2 linked regions of the Homo sapiens genome follow. The protein of the gene in region 1 purifies or fractionates together with the protein of each later gene. This does not show direct contact. Each region holds a gene or a part of one and is shown in the gene's direction. Other genes may lie near its edges. The genes, in order: EXOC3L2 and MIPEP.

What was found.
Region 2: the proteins of EXOC3L2 (region 1) and MIPEP purify together in Homo sapiens (affinity purification with mass spectrometry; 2 studies listed by BioGRID and IntAct, with this or other methods). This does not show direct contact.

What each region holds. Positions count from the first base shown.
Region 1 is NC_000019.10:45,211,599-45,214,462, reverse strand, and holds the end of EXOC3L2 (exocyst complex component 3-like protein 2), read left to right. Parts: intron 1-1,105; coding exon 1,106-1,394; 3' UTR 1,395-2,093; downstream 2,094-2,864.
Region 2 is NC_000013.11:23,729,477-23,732,514, reverse strand, and holds the end of MIPEP (mitochondrial intermediate peptidase), read left to right. Parts: intron 1-2,069; coding exon 2,070-2,167; 3' UTR 2,168-2,326; downstream 2,327-3,038. UniProt on the Homo sapiens protein: Cleaves proteins, imported into the mitochondrion, to their mature size.

The sequences.
Region 1 (2,864 bases):
CAAACACACAAAAAAACTAGTGTACCAGATCAGCACACCACACCACCATGTGACAGTGCTGGATGGTGGTGGCAGTGGTGGTGGCTGCCGGAGCAACGCCAGTCCTTGCAGTGCTATTTGGGCAGACACATTCTCAGACATACTCAGAGAAACAGAACCCCAGAAAAACAAGGAGTGAGGCATGAGCGGGTTTCAGTTTCAGCACTGAGGGTGGGGGTCCTGGAATTGATTCAGGGTGGTCAGTTCTGATTCTGGGGGATAAGGTCATGTCCTTGGGAAGGCACATATTCCTGGAGTCCCATGGGGTCCCAAGAAGTCCCAGTATTCTTGCTGATGTGGAGTTTCTGAACTTGAATATTGGATCATGAGTCAGAACTTGAATCTGTAGCTAAGTTTAAGAGTTTGCTAGCTGGGTTGGGTTTAGGGGGTTGAGCTTGAGATTAGGAGGTACCTAGGGCTGAGGATTTAGGGGGAGTGGGGTACAAGGTTTCTTTCTTTTTTTTACTTTTGAAATGGAGTCTCGCTGTGTCACCCAGGCTGGACTGCAGTGGCGCGATCTCAGCTCACTGCAACCTCTGCCTCCCAGGTTTAAGGGATTCTCTTGCCTCAGACTCCTGAGTAGCTAGGATTACAAGCGCCTGCCACCACACCCAGCTTTTTTTTTTTTTTAATGTATTTTTAGTAGAGAGAGGGTTTCGCCATGTTGGCCAGGCTGGTCTCGAACTCCTGACCTCAGGTGATCCGCCTGCCTTGGCCCCCCAAAGTGCTGGGATTACAGGCATGAGCCACGGCACCCAGCTGAGAAGGTGAATTTTAATCACGAGCTGAGGCTTGGGGTGAAAAGGAAGATCCCAGGGCTGGTTCTGGGGTTGGTTGTAAGGGGGATTTGGAGATGGTTGGAAGTGAAGTTCTGGAGGGAGCTGGTATGAGGTGAGGGCCTGGGCAAGGGAGCTGATTGGAGGGAAGGCTCTGGAGGGGACACAGAGGCCCCAGAACTCAGGCAATTTCTGGGATAGGTGAGGGGGTCAGGTGGGGTCCACGGCTGGGTTGGGTGTGTGTCTAGAGCTGGGGATCTGCATGCACCTGTCTGTTCCTCTCCCCACAGGCAGAAGCACGTGGCAGCCCTCCTCGACATCCGTGGCCTGCGCAACACAGCCGCCCGCCAGGAGATCCTGGCCGTGGCCCGGGACCTGGAACTCTCTGAGGAGGGAGCCCTGTCACCCCCTCGGGACCGTGCCTTCTTTGCAGACATCCCTGTGCCCCGCCCATCTTTCTGTCTCAGCCTCCCTCTCTTCCTGGGCCGCCTCCCCCTCTCCCGGCTGGCCAGGCCCAGTTTGGCCTGTCTGCCTCGGCCCCGGCCTCCGTCTCTAGCGCGACCTCGGGCCCAGCGCTGAGGGTCACCCAACCGCCGGCCTTAGTGACCCCATCTATGCTGCTGACAAGCCAACCTCCCGTACGGCGCCCCTCCTGACTCCCTGCCTGGGACCACACACCCCTGGGATAGAAAGACCCTTAGATGTCTTTTCACCCAACCCCAAACTCCCTGTACAGAAGGGAAACAAACGCCAGGCACGGTGGCTCATGCCTGTAATCCCAACACTTTGGGAGGCTGAGGCCGGAGGATTGCTTGAGCCCAGGAGTTCAAGACCAGCCTGGGCAACATAGTGAGACCTGCCCCCTATCTCTACAAAAAATAAAAAATTAGCTGGGCACGGTGGTGTGTGCCTGTAGTCCCAGCTACTGGTGAGGCTGAGGCTGGAGGATCACTGGAGTTCGAGGCTGCAGTGAGCTATGACTGTGCCACTGCACTCCAGCCTGGTCAACAAAGCAAGACCCTTTCTCAAAAAAAAAAAAAAAAAAAAAAGGTAGGGGGAAACAGAGGCCAAAGAGACAAAGCATTTTCCCAAGGCCATGAAGCCTGTTCCCAGCACCTCCCCTCCTGCCATAGCCCAGAGTGGTGAGTGTCGTTCTGGAAGTCTCTACAGAAATATCCCAGCTCCCCCGCCCCTTTCCCTCACCTCAAGGTCTGGCCCCAATCCAATGTATTAAGGAACGTTCGATACTTAGAATAAAGAGGTTTCTATTTAACACAAGGAAGGGCTGAGTCCTGAGTGTGTTGTGGGGAGGAAGGACCGGGGAAGCAGGGCCCCGGGCCAGTGGCTTCTCACACACCCAAGGCCGGGCTGGGCTCCAGCTCCTGGGCAGGGTAGTGGAGGTAGAGGGAGGCTGCATGTGCTGGGAGCGACGCCAACCCATGTACACCTCCTGGCTGTGTGGCTCTGAGGCCAGGCCTTCGCCACTCTGAGCCAGGGTCCCTCGTCTGGTCAATCTCAAAGTGCCTGTCCATTCCTGGTCCTGGTGGCTCCATCTTGGCACACCCTCCCCATCCATCCTTAGCCGGGAAGCTGCCCTGTCAGGAGAGGAAGGAGGTTGGGGGCAGGGCTGGCGGCATCCAGGGCGCCCTCCTGGGTTGACGCAGGAAAGTCTCGGGGTGGGAAAATTTCCAGCCTCTCACCCCCAGCCCCGCCGGATCCTAGTCCCCACGGAGACCTTGAGGTCACCTCCCTGCTGACTCCTGCCCCTCCGGCCTGGGCTGGACAGCCCGTGATGGATGTTTCCTGACTTGTGGGATTTTTTGTGTGTATGTGGTTTTTTTTTTTTTCCCTGAGAAGTCAGAAAGAGGAGGCAGCCAGGGGTTAGCACTGGGGCTGGGTTTGGAACTTCACGCATGCACATTTGAACTTGGGGAGGTAGAGACGAGGGACTCTCGGAGCCCAAGGCTGTGCTTCCTGACCCGAGGCAGGAAGCTGCCCCTCTCTGGGCTGAGGTTCCTGTGCCTTTCTGGGGGAATTGCTTAAACTCTC
Region 2 (3,038 bases), on another chromosome or scaffold:
CTTGGGTTGTTTCAAGCTTGGGGTTGTACAAGTTGTTTCTTTGTTGACATATGCTTTCATTTCTCTTGGATAAATACCTGGGAGTGAAATTGCTGGGTCCTAGTGTAGGTCTATGTTTAGTTTCGTAAGACACTGGTTAAGACCTTTTTTCAAAGTGATTGTATCATTTTATCCTTTCACCACAAATGTATGACAATTCAGGTTGCACACAGCCTTGTCAACATTTGGTGTAGCACAGTGGCTCACGCCTGTAATCCCAGCACTTTGAGAGGCCAAGGCAGGAGGATCGCTTGAGCCCAGAAGTTCAAGACCAGCCTGGGCAACATGACAAGACCCCATCTCTACAAGAAGTTTAAAAACTAGCTGGGCATGGTGGCACACACCTGTGGTTCCAGCTACTCTCAAGCTGAGACGGGAGGATCACTTCAGCCTGGGAAGTCGAGGCTGCAGTGAGCCATGTTCACACCACTGCACATGCTGTGTTGTCCAGGCCTGGACAACAGAGCAAGACCTTGTCTTTAAAAAAAAAAAAAAAAAAAAAAAAAATTAGCTATTCTGGTGGATGTGTAATAGTATCTCATTGTGGGTTTGGTTTTCATTTCCCTAGTGACTAATGATGTTGAATGTCTTCTCAGTGCCTATTAGTTGTGTTACTTATTCAGATATCTTCTGTGAAAAACCTGACCTTGTGAAGGTAAAATCTTTTGTCAATTTGTAATTTAAAAAAACATATTTTTACAATGGGTCAAAGGAGTTCTTTATATTTTCTGGATACCAGTCTTACGTGAGATATGTTTTGTGAGTATTTTTTCCAACTATCATTTGTCTACTCATTGGCTTAATGGTTTCTTTTCAAGAGACATTTTAAATTTTGATGAAATCTAACATTTTTTCCTTTTATGCATTGCTTTCTGTGTCCTAAGAAACTATACCTACTTCAGGGTCACAAAGATACTTCATGCGGTTTTTTTAAGATAATAATTTTAGTGTTTACACTTAGGTCTGTGACCATCTCAAATTAGTTTTTATGTATGGTATGCAGTAGGAGTCAAGGCTAGTTTTCTGCCGTATGGATATGCAGTTCTGCCCAGCCGACTACTCTCACTCTTCATGTTGTGACTGAGCCTGCCCACCTGTATGCCCATGACCTGGCCTGATCCTTTACACACAACAGATGCTTCCTTCATGTTCACTGAATTGCAATACAGGTTCAGAGAACAATAGAGGATTCCTGCAATCTTTTAATGCCTTGATTTTGAAAATGGTTTTACAGAATTCATCTCCCAAAGTAAATATCAGTATATAGAGCCTGTTCAACCCTTCAGTTAGCATTTCCTGCCAAGAATGTAGGTTAAAGCAATAAGGTTAATTGCATCAATCTTTGTTTTTGGCTTCTTTAGAGTGAAGAAAGGACATGAATTCAGCTTTTTATTGAATTCTTAATATATGCTAGGCATGGTGCTTCATTGCTTCTACTACATCTTCTTGTTTGATCCTTATAGCAACCTTGTAGGAAATTTGGATGCCAGAGATTTTAAGTGACTTCTGCGTTACACAGTTACTAAGTTGCAAAGCTAGGAGTTCTCTGGGACAGGGAAATCTGGAGGAGAGCCAATAACTTGATTCTGATATAAGATTTCTATAAAAGAATTAACATCTAATTGATTGTAAAGTGTATAGAACTTGATAACAAAACTTGATATGTAATTAAACTTGTTAAATTGTGAATCATCCCAGTCAAAGATAACTAAAAAAAAATCAGTCTTCTAATATCAGTCTCTAAGGGTATAGTCATATATGCAAAAATAATAGCCCTTAGGAAATATATTTAGGCCTAAATCTCTAAGCTAAGGATGGATTTGATAGTAAAAATACATTAAAATTATAAATAGCTCCAAGGCCCACACACTGCCCATGACTTTATAAAATGTTCTTGCATTCAGGTTATACAGCCAGAGTCTTAATTCAGAAAGCCAGAGTGTTCCTCTAGTGTGTGGATTTGATTTTGTGTCTTTGTGCTTCCTGTTGCCTCCTGGTGAACGCAGTTCTGACCTTTCCTTTGTTTGCAGGTATGCTTCAGAAGTGTCCTTCTGTTGATGACTTCGTAAGTGCCCTCGTTTCCGACTTGGATCTGGACTTCGAAACTTTCCTCATGGATTCTGAATAAAAGAAACACTCTACACCTCTTAAATCAAGGTCATGTAGATAATGACTTTGTTATAAATGCTACAGCTGTGAGAGCTTGTTTCTGATTTCATTGTTCGCTTCTGTAATTCTGAAAAACTTTAAACTGGTAGAACTTGGAATAAATAATTTGTTTTAATTATTCTGGCTTTTCACCTGTTTGGCAAATATTTGAGCACATGGAAATCTCTGACCTAGTAACAACAACACTTCTACATGGCATTGTTAAATGGAGGGTATGGGCATTTCCTTAGTATAACCACTCTCCTGTTGAGCTTTTCCCTCTTTCCATGGATCTTTAATTGGTTTAATTAAATAATTAACTAAAAGCAAAATTGTTTAAGACAGAGTTTGAAGCAGTCTTCAGACAGGTTACACTTATAGTTCTTTTAAGAATGATGACCATTTCTTAAGACCACTATCTAAAGTAGGCTTAGAAAATGCACTTTAAATAGTCAATTACAGGCAACCAACAAACCAAGTGTGGTTTCCAAAATACATGTAATTATCTGTACTGTTTTTTCCTGAATGTTTAGGCAAATAGACTCAGAACACAGAGGACTGGCTTGGCAATGAAGGTAGAATGAGTAAGTGCAGGTACAATTAATAAGTGACATACCAGTGTCAAGCAACTGGTGAATCAGGAAACAGACCATGTCTGTTTTTATCTGGAACTCATTTGCTTTACAGTATTGCATACCATACTGTATTTTGGTTAATATCAGGAAATAAATTATTTAATGGGTTTTTCCCACCATTAAAGTCAAAACCAAATTATGAATTTCCAGTTTAAAAAGGCATCTGCTAACAGCCTCTTCTTGCTTCTCACCAAAGACCAATGATGAAAGGAAAGA